2 separate regions of the Homo sapiens genome follow, and region 2 is linked to region 1. The links come from fine-mapping of genetic effects on gene expression. A gene starts in region 1. The other region holds a variant in brackets. All regions are shown on one strand. Distances are between the middles of the regions.

Evidence for each region.
Region 2: its variant is fine-mapped to the expression of RNF114 in Th1/17 cells (Schmiedel 2018, PIP 0.91).

Annotation. Positions count from the first base shown.
Region 1 is chr20:49,934,115-49,939,487 of GRCh38, reverse strand. RNF114 (ring finger protein 114) reads right to left here and starts at 3,091. Exons shown (of 6, transcript NM_018683.4): 1 at 2,936-3,091. The coding sequence starts at 3,075. RefSeq lists silencers at 1-96, 1,722-2,016, 2,302-2,596, 3,055-3,244, 3,811-3,890 and 1 more and an enhancer at 2,837-3,442.
Region 2 is chr20:49,879,955-49,885,327 of GRCh38, reverse strand. SLC9A8 (solute carrier family 9 member A8) reads right to left here. Exons shown (of 16, transcript NM_015266.3): 13 at 4,293-4,404; 14 at 1,262-1,482. Among named protein-coding and RNA genes, the nearest start is that of MIR12122, 19 kb to the right of the region's middle. The variant A/G (reference allele first, on the strand shown) is at 3,146.

The DNA of each region.
Region 1 (5,373 bases):
TGATAGATTAAGACAGTATAACCAAATCTGCCAGAAAGAACTAAAGATATATAATGAAAGGCCATCTTCTGAACACTTGACCATTTTCTACTGCCTCTAAGAATCTCCTTCCTCCTTGTCATTAAGTTAGATGTTAATGCTGTTAGGCAAAATTCCAGACCAGGTACAGAGAAGGTGAGGGAGTCTATTCATTCACCACTGAGGGCAATGGAAACTTGACAAAGCCCTGTTCTCATGATGCTTACATTCTAGAGTGAAGGGAAACACAAATGTTAATTTCAGATAGTGATTAAAAATATGAAGGAAATATGGCAAACAGACCAGCTGGGGTGATCATAGAAAGCTGCTTCTGAGGAGTTGGCATTTGAGCTGGGTGGGACCTGATTACGAGGACAGCCACACAGATCTGGGTGCAGAGCTCCACACCAAGATCACGCCACACACAAATGAGGACTGGAAAGGAAGGCAGGCAGACCTTGGGGGCCATGATGCGGTAGACCATGGTGAGAAGGGCAAGTGATGAGGCAGTAGAGACAGGCAGGGCCTGTGGCCATCACTTGTGTTGCCTGTTCACAAAGGCAGATGACAAGAGGAACCCAAGAGAGCACAGAGGGTCCAGTGAGTATAATGGAACCAAACCCAGCATGCAGATAAAAGCAGCTCGAAGTCTCTTCTCAAGCACACACACAGGTACAGCTCATCTATCAAATGTTCACGAGTCACTTTGTGCCTGAGACATGCCCAAACTACCAGCCTGCTTTTGAACAACTCAAATATCCTGGGATGGCTTTTCAGTTTCTATTTCCTACTTATGCGCCCTTTTCTAGTTCAGCCTTCCGATGCTCCACTCCGTCACAGTGCTAGGAAGAAATTCCCTTCTCTTGGGCACCCAGCCAGCTGCCTTTCTCCAGCTGTATTCTACCAGATTGGAGAACACAGTCATTCAGGGCTTGAAATAAAGTTTTATAAAAATCCAATGCCCCAGCCAGAGTTGCAGTGATGCTCAACTTTCCAAGCACAAAAGGTAAAAATCAACTAGGCACAGGAGAAAGCAGTCGGTTGGAGCTAGCGGGGATTTGGGCTGCCCTCACAGAGGTGCTTCCATCTGTCTTCAATTTGCACTGAACTGCTGATCACGTGGGGCTAGGACAGCGAGGATAGAGAAGAGCCAAGGTTTGAAAACCAGTACTGTTCCTTGCCCTCTGACCTAGGAAAGGTTCACCAAGCTCAAGAAAATCTCAAATTTTGCTGCTCTTCATTTAGCAAACTGTGCTGGGTCTAGCCTTTTTACAAATGTTAATAGTAAATGAAATCCACTGAATTAATCCAAAATCAGGTAAATCTGATCCAAGGATAAGTGGATTCAATGAAAAAGCTAAAGACCACTTCAACTCTCGTGAAGCTTGCTTACACGACTTATTAGTTCATTCAACCATTACCTGATCACTCACCCCACGCACAGAGGTGTGATCCCTGAAATACCCTCCCACTTGCAGAATGAATTTTTACAATAGTTTGACCAGTCATTGGTACTTATTTATAATCAATTCACTGGACTGTAAACTCTGAAGGCAGAGTCTACCCCAAAATCTGGCACACAGAGGCCATTCCAGTCAGTTCAGGGGCAATAAAGATATGGCCACTCCGTCATGAGCTGTTAAGTTTTGCTCTGTGCAAGCAAGGAGAAGGAAGTTAAGTCCCAGAAAGGAAGTGGGGGAAGTAATTTAGATGGGGATGGTATTTGGTGAGGTAACTTAACCTGGGACTTGAAGCCTGAAAAGGGAGGGGTGGGGGGAAGAGTTCCAGGCTAACCGAATTGCAAAGATGAATAGCCTAAAGCAACATGATGAAGCAAAAAGCAGCCAGCTAGGTGCCAAGCACTGTTCTCTGGACTACTGAAATGGTCACCTGCAGTACATCTGGGAAGAGCTAGGCCACGGTGACCCTTCCCTAAGAGAGCCTCGGACCCTCAGTGTATTCACCTGTAAAATGGCTGCCAACCCTCCCCCGCTGCAGGGTGGCTATAGAATAATGCCCATGGAGTGCAATGGCTACTGTGCCCGCTGCCAAGACCAATGCCAAGGTGATCCCACGATAAGCACTGAGAGGGGCCAGAGGAAAAGCCAATTCTGAGGCAAGAAGCAGGTGGCCACGTTGTCTACAATTCTTTCAACTCAGATGTGTTTGTGCGTCTGATGGAACAAGGCTTAGATTCAAATCGACCAACCTGACCAACCTCGAAAGCCCCGGCCACAGCCCAGGACCTGGACTGGACATTTATACACATATCTGCTTTAATCATTATAACCACTCTATTCACAATATTCAGGTCATGAAGGCTTAATTGAAAACTGAAAGAAACAAACCTCCTACACAGGAAGTAGAATGCTAACAATCCCATCTGCCAACTCCCACCCCCCTTTCACAGCTAAGGGCAAACTGGCCAGATCCCCATAAAGACTTCCCTTTTGTTGTTTTAGTCTAGTTCAGCGTTTCTCCCGACTTTAGTGCACAGTAGAATAACTCGCCACAGCTAGACACGACGCCAAATGTCCTATGCTTTAAGAGCGACGTGGACTAGAAAGGAAACGTCGGCTCTCCAAGGGCGGACTTCGGAGCCTAAAGTCCCCGCAGGGCACGAGTCCACTATCACGTGTGGGAAGGAGACTGACAGGCCGCCTGGAACATCGCAGGCGCTCAACAGACAGCAGCTGCCCCGCTAAGACGGGCGGAGGAACGGGATACTTAGGAGTGAGCGGGGCGGGACAGAAGAGCGCCCCGGCAGCTTTCACGGCCCTTAGGAGCCCCGGGGGACACCCCCGGGAGGCCCCTCTGGGTGGGTCCTCTGGCTCCCGCCCTGAGACCCATCTCGCTCCTCGGCTCCATTCCCTTCCCAGTTAAGCGCCCCCCGACCAGGCCCGGGCTCGCCGCTTACACGTGTCCGCAGGGCACCTGTACCGGCTTCTCGTACACCTCTAAGCACACGGGACACGTGAAGCGTCCTAGGGGGTCAGCCTCCGCCGCCGGCCCCGCCAGCTGCGCAGCACCCCCGCAGTCCCGCTGTTGCGCCGCCATCTTGCTGCCGCTCTGCGCCGCGCAACGGCGGCCGATGAGGAGGAGGCCGAGGGGGCGGGGCTCGCGGGGCGGTGAGCGGTTGGGGGCGGGGCTAGCGGGTGGGCCGCCCCTCGGGGCCCCTCTGACGCAAGCGAGCTAGAGGCCGAGGGAAATCTGGAAAACGTGGAAGCCAAATCCAAAGGCTGCCAGAATTGGGACGGGCTCTGCGCGTGGGCCGCTGTTTTCCAAATTTATCGTTAGTTCGGCACCACTTGCACTATCACTATTTATCTTCGAATCAAGTTGCTTTTTCCTTAAATTTATTTATTTATTTATTTAATCTATTTTGGGACAAGGTCTTGCTTTGTCGCCCAGGCTGGTGTTCAGTGGCGCGCGCGATCATGGCTCCCTGCAGCCTCGACCACCGGGGTTCAAGCGATCCTCCCACCTCAGCCTCCTGCGTAGCTGGACCACAGGCAGTCACCACCATGCCGGACTAATTTATTTATTTTTGTATTTTTTGTAGAGACGGGGAAAGGAGGGGGGGAAGGAGTGGTGCAGAGAGCGGGCGGGTCTCACTGTGTTGCCGAGGCTGGCCTCGAACTCTTGGACGCAAGCAATCCGCCTGCCTCGGCAACCCGAAGTGCTGGGATTACAGCGGTGAGCCACAGTACCCAGCCATTTCTTAAATTTAAGCAAATTCTAATAACAGATCTAATTCCTGAGCTGCAAGAAGAAAATCAATATCATTTATTTATACAAAGGAGCTGGGCAAGGTGGCTTACTTCTGTAATCTCAGCACTTTGGGAGGCCGAGGTGGGCGGATCGCTTGAGCCTAGGAGTACTAGAGCAGCCTGGCCAACATGGTGAAACCCCGTCTCTACTAACAATACTAAAATTAGCCAGGCGTGGTTGCCCATGCCTGTAGCCTCAGCTACTCAGGACGCTGAGGCAGGAAAAGCCTTTGACCTGGGAGGCGAAGGTTGCCGTGGGCCAAGATGGCTCACTCACTCCAACAGTCACTAAACTCCAGCCTGGGCAACAAGAACGAAACTCCGTCTGAAAAAAAAAAAAAAAAACAAAAACACAACCTGGCTAACACGGTGAAACCCTGTCTCTACTAAAAATACAAAAAATTAGCCGGGCGTGGTGGCGGGCGCCTGTAGTCCCAGCTACTCGGGAGGCTGAGGCAGGAGAATGGCTTGAACCTGGGAGGCGGAGCTTGCAGTGAGCCAAGATCTTGCCACTGCACTCCAGTCTGGGCGACAGCGCGAGACTCCCTCTCAAAAAACAACAACAACAACAACAAAACAAAACAAAAAAACCCCAACAACAAAGTACATTCATTTCATATTGTGCAATCATCACCATCAGCTATCTCTAAAATTCTGGTCTTCTTGCTAAACTGAAACTGAAATTCTGTCCCCATTAAACAATAACTTCCTCTTCCCTCCTCCCATCCCCATACCCCCAGGCCCTGGCAATTTTCTGTCTATGATTTTGAAGCACTTATAGCTATAAAATTTCCCCTGAGCACTGCTTTCACTGTGTCCAGTAAATTTTGGCATGCTGTGTTTTTGTTTTCATTTGTTTCTCAATATTTTCTCTATTTATTTAATTAATTTATTTATTTTGAGATGGAGTCTCACTCTGTCGCCCAGGCTGGAGTGCATTGGTGCAATCTCTGCTCGCTGCAGCCTCCCTCTCCTGGATTCAAGCAATTCCCTTGCCTCAGCCTCCCAAGTAGCTGGGATTACAGGTGCCTGCCACCACGCCTGGCTAATTTTTGTATTTTTAGTAGAGACAGGGTTTCACAATGTTGGCCAGGCTGGTCTCAAACGCCTGACCTCAAGTGATCCGCCAACCTCGGCCTCCCAAAATGCTGGGATTACAGGTGTGAGCCACCCAGCCTGGCCTGTTTCTGAGTATTTTCTAATTTCCCTTGTGATTTCTTCTTTGATCCATTGGTTCTTTTAAGAGTGTGTAAATTTCCACAAATTTGTGAATTTTCCAGTTTTCCTTTGATATTGATTTCTTTTTTTTTTTAACCCCCCCATATTGATTTCTAGCCTTATCCAATTGTGCTTGGAGAAGATATTTGGTATGATCTCTTTTATTTCTTCTTTCTTTCCTTCTTATCTTTCTCTCTTTCTCCTTTTCTTCTGTCTCTTTTTGTAGAGATGAAGTCTGGCTGTGTTGCCCAGGCTGGTTGCAAACTCCTGGGCACGAGCAATCCTCCTGCCTCAGCCTCCCAAAGTGCTGGGATTACAGGCCTAAGCCACCACAGCTGGCTGATGTCTACCTTTTAAAATCTCTTGA
Region 2 (5,373 bases), 54 kb after region 1:
AAACACAAATTCTTTCGGACCCCATACCATACCTATGAGATGCTGGTGTGAGACCCAGCAGCCTGTGTGTAGCAAGCCCCCCACCGATTCTGATACCCAGAAAGGCCTAAGCTAGAGCTTTTGTGAAAAACAAAAAAGTTGGTAGATAGGGGGTGGGGGCAAAGGGCCTCTTAGTGTGGTGGAAGTTCTGCAGAGCCAGGCCTCACAGCCATCTGGAAGTTTCCTCCCAGCAGCACTGCACTGGGTGAGGGGCCCAGCTGAGCATGGAGATTGGAGGCCATGGTCTTGCCAGCCCTGACTCCAGTGTTAGCCGTGGATGGCCACGTGAGGACTCCTGGGCCTCTGATGACTGATTAAAGTTACTGAGGCCTAGAATACGGGAACTAGAAAGAGATGCATGTCCAGAAATGCATGGTGATCAGCAGGGGATGCTCTGGGCTGGAGCCTACAGCAGCCTCTGCTTCGGTCAGAGGGCCTAGCTTTGCACAGGGGTCCTGAGGGTGAAGACAGGGCGGGAAGGCAGCCTGGTGGCAGGGGCGGTGGCTTGTAGGAAGAAGAGGTGGGCAGGCTGCAGAACCTCAGCTCTCCCTACAGCTGGGGCCTGGGTACCTCCAGCCCCACACCATGTCTGTCCTTGGGGGAGTACCCCTCTCACGGCCCTCACAGCCACCGCAAGACATCCTCCCCTCCTCAGGCCCCCAACAGGTGGTTTTTAGTAAAACCATACTGGGGAATGACAGGATTTTGAAACCCTCAAACCTGGGCCCTGACAGGTGTCTCAGCTGCTGGCAGGGCAGAGGCACTGCTGTGGTTGTGGCACAGGTCCAGACTCCTGTGGTGCCCCATGGAGCTTCAGAGAGGGAGCAGATGGGGTCGTCCACAGCCCCCATGGCTGCGGCAGGTCACAAGGCCACCAGACACCCCCACCCCAAGAGCCATGCTTCAGAACTCAAGTTCCGTCACCTCCTTCTCAGGGGGGATGACCGGGGGGTGTGTGTGTGTGTGTGTGTGTGTGTGTGTGTGTGTGTGTGTGTGTGTCGTGTGTGTGTGTGTCGTGTGTGTGTGTGTCGTGTGTGTGTGTGTGTCGTGTGTGTGTGTGTGTGTGTGTGTGTGTGTGTGTGTGTGTGTCGTGTGTGTGGAGGTGCTGGGCATCCTCAAAGCAAGAAAGCAAGGCTCATCTCCCCATTTCCTGACAGTGGGGACCACCAGCTGCGTAGCAGGCCAGCCCCCTGCCCCACCCCCACAGGCGCATGGTACTAACCATCTTCTCAGTCTTGCTGAGGTTGACGTCCTTCTTGTTCCTGCGGTGTGCCTTGGCGTCCTCGATGTCCATGAGGCGAATGAGGGGCATGGTGCTGCCGCCCAGCAGCAGGATGGTGAAGAGCACGATGACGATGGTGGTGGTGCCGATGAGCTGCCGCTTCTCCATGGGCTCCAGGTCCAGGTGTAGGCTCAGGGCATAGGGGATGGCTCCCCGCAGGCCTGGGTGACAGCAAACAGTGTGAGAGGACACAGTGAAGAGGCAGCAGCTTCATGGGCTGGCTTCCCTGGAAATCCAGCCGGCCCAGCACCACGACCAGCTGACTATTCTAATGGCCCTGCTGAAGAGTGTGTGCTCACCCTGTGAGGCTTTGGGGTGTAAAGAGCAGGTGGCAGAGATGGGACCACAGACTCACCTCCATTCCAACATTGGCAGATCAAATGAGATGGCCTGCCCCAGCTACAGAGCCCCAGATGCGGGTGCGGGAGGACTTAGCAAGCCTGATGCTCGTGTCTTGGAAACTGCAGGACAGCTGCTGTGGGCTGAGCCCTCCCTGTGTGTGCGCCAGGCCTGGGCAGGTGCTCAGTGTGCAGAGCATCACTGGATCTTCACAGGAATCCTCACCGAGCAGCGCTACTCTTGTCCACAACACACAGATGAGGGATGGAGGCCAAGAGCAGCATGGCCCGCCCAGGGCCACTCAACTAATACCCACAACAGCACAAGATGCAATGTGTCCAGTACCCCTCCTATCTCGAGATGCTGTCCCTGTGGAGGCCCCTGGTGGCACTGATGGGGCTGTGGGCTGCTTAGGTGGTAATGACAGGCTGGCTGGTCCTCTGTGACGCTACTAGGGCACAACTGAGGGGCATGGACTGAGCTGGAAAACAGCACATTCCTCTGTTAGAAGTTTCCTGGCTTCCTTGGTGCCATACGGAGGGGACAGGCAGTCCTAGCCCCACCCTTGGGGAGCTCCTAGAGCAGCTGGGAGGAGGCACAGCAAATAAGGGGTGTGAAATGCTACCTGGAAGAGATGGTGGGGGGAGGGGGGTGGGGGGTGGGGGGGGGCATGGTGCAGACAGCACCAGGACCTTCCCCAGACAGGAAAGCGGGGAGGCTCACATCACCATGGGGTAGGGCAGCCAGGCTGCTGCAGGCCAGACCCAGATGGGGAGACGGCAGGGCAAGAGCAAAGGGCACATAATACAGAGACATGGTGAGGACAAGGGACTCTCAGCCTCTCTAAACCTGTCACGGGCCAGAGGATTCAGTGACACGGGACATGTAATGTGCTTTAACAGGGTGTGTACCCAGCAAGTGCTTAGTACCGGCTAGCCAGGCCACCGGGCAATTCAAAGTAGGATTTCTTGGGCAAGGGGGATGCAAAGGCATAGGGATGACAGCATCCCCACGGCATCCAAACAGGCAGCTGGAAACAGGAGTACGGATCCCAGAGGGAGGTCTGGGTTCGCGGGAACAGCTTTGGGACTAGGTGGAAGTGAAGGCCAGTGGACGGGTGAGCGCACTCAGTGAAGTGCAGAACACGTGAACAGAAGTGGGGCTGGGGCCAAGTCCTGAAGAAGCCACTATTTGAGGGGTCAGCGAAGGGGGACGAGCCCAAGGAGACGTCAAAGGAGAGAAAGGAGGAGCATGGCCCAGAGGCCGGGGAAGAGAGTGAAGTGGTCCTCGCCAGAAGGTAGGGGCAGTGGGAAGGAGGTAGGCTAGGACGGGGGCGGACGCCTCCCCTCCAGGTCTGGCTGCGGGAGGTCACTGGTGACCTGCCAAGGCCAATTCCAGCCCCGTGGACAGGCGGTGAAGAAGTGGAGAAAATGAGCGAGCACGGCTCACTCGCAAGGGTCTGGCCATGGCAAAAGAGGTGCGGAC[A/G]CAGCTGCGGGGGACATGAGGAGGAACTCTGGCTGAAGTTGCTGGTGTTTTGTGGGAAGGAGGAGAAGCTCTGATTGCTTAAATGATGATGGGAGGGGCCGGTAGCAGAGGCTTGTTCAGTGCCCCTCGTTGAGGATCCAGGAAAGCCTGGATGGAAACCCACAGAGCAAGAGCCCGGGGAGCCTGGGAGAGAACAGGAGCCGACAGCCCCCGCCATTTCAAATACACTCCAACCTTCCCCATAACGCTCTCTTATCCTCATGCCCCCCTTCCCAAATAGCCCACATCACTTCAAAAACCTCTGACACACTTCTGCAACCATTTACAAAGTAGTTTGCCTCACTGGCAAAAGAGATTAGGAAAAAAATGAGTTTTTCTCACCACATATAAATGTATATGTATATATACACATACGTACATATATATGAAACATATACATTTTTAAACATGGCCTTTTGAAAGAAGAGAAATCTGAGACAAACTTGCAGATATGCCTTTGGATAGAGAACATTATAGTGTGTTGCTATAACCCAACCCACACGGAAAATACTTTGATTATAATATTTAAGCAAGAAAGCATAAAGAACAGTATGTATTGCTCAAAAATAAATTTAAGGATGCCTATGGATCCAGTTCTTTAGAAGCAAAGATGTATGAAATCATTTCCGTCCTTTAAAAAGTGATTAAATAGCAACTGAAACATTCAAATTAAACTACTAGAACTTTGTGACTAAAAGGAAAAATATCCAAAACTAACATAAGGTATGAAACAGTTTCAACTTTCACCTTTTCTACCTTGAGACCATTATTACTTCAGCCTAGAAGACCCCCAGGGAGGCGCTGAAGCACGCCCAGCTGCATCCCGGACTGCACTATGGTGTTCAGAAGAGAGTGGCAGAAATCCCGGCTCTGCCTCCAGTGGTCACGTGACCCTGGGCATGTTGTTTGCCCTCTTCCAACCAAGCCTCACCCACTTCATAGCACCATGGTGAGGGGCACCATCTTGATTGCAGTGGGTGCCATTAAACGGGAGTATTGATTACTTGTGGTTTTGCCAAGGGCGCTAGCAGAGAACCACAGCTCTCCCTGTATGGGGCGTGCTTTTAACAGGTACTTCCCCACCCCATTTATCCAAGATTTGACTTACCACTAAACCACATGATGAACATCATCTTCGGTGTGATTTTATGATCCCGGAAGAAATTCAGGAGGTAGGAAAGAGGGAAAATGTTTACCGCTCTGCCAAATAGTACAAGCACCTGTTGATAGCAACAAACTAAGTCTTAGGTGAAAACATCTGGCTCTTCAAGCTGAAGCTTCTTGGATGAAGCTAATGCAGACTGTGTAACACATCCAGTACAAATGCAGTATTCCCCTCAGCCACAAAAGACACGAGCAACACCATGCTCGTCAGAGACCCAGCATGGGCGTGCTGCCACAGCTGCGGGATTCTATGCATCTAGGAAAGGATAAAGCTTTGTACGTTACCTTTCTTAGTAGCCAGAAAAGAGAGGACGGACGAGGTATCAGGAAGGGCTTTAGTAATGACAGCAGAACAAAACTGAATGCCAAGAGGCTGTACAGAAGTATTCACAGATTAGTTTAAGGGCAACCTGACTCCCAAGGTGCCCCTCCTTGGGACAGGGCTGCATTGATCATACCAGGACTAGGGGGACAGACAAGGTGTTTCTGCCTCTCCCTCAGGGAAAGGAGGGCAGCTATGAAGGACCTCCCATGCATGGAAACACTGCTCTCTGAGCAAGAGGAACGCAGAGGTAGGGACTATCAGGAGGCCACATGCCCCGGCTTAGCCTGCCAGCTGCTTGCTGTGGCTTTTGGTTCCTCTCCATCTCCAAAGGCATGTTAGTCTTGGCAAAGTACAGCTTTATGTAAAGTTTACATCTTTTTTTTTTTTTTTTGAGACAAAGTCTCACTCTGTCTCGCATGCTGGAGTGCAGTGGTGTGATTGTGGCTCAATGCAACCTCAACCTCCTGGGCTCCAGTGATCCTCCCACCTTAACCTCCCAAGTAGCTAGAACTACAGGTATGCACCACCATGCCTGGCTACTTTTTAAAATTTTTTAGTTAAAGATGAGGTCTTGCTATGTTGCCCAGGCTGGTCTCAAACTCCTGGTCTCAAGCAATCCTCCTGCCTTTGCCTCCCAAAGTGCTAGGATTACAGGTGTGAGCCACTGCACCCAGCCTAAAGTTTAAATCTTATCTAAGTG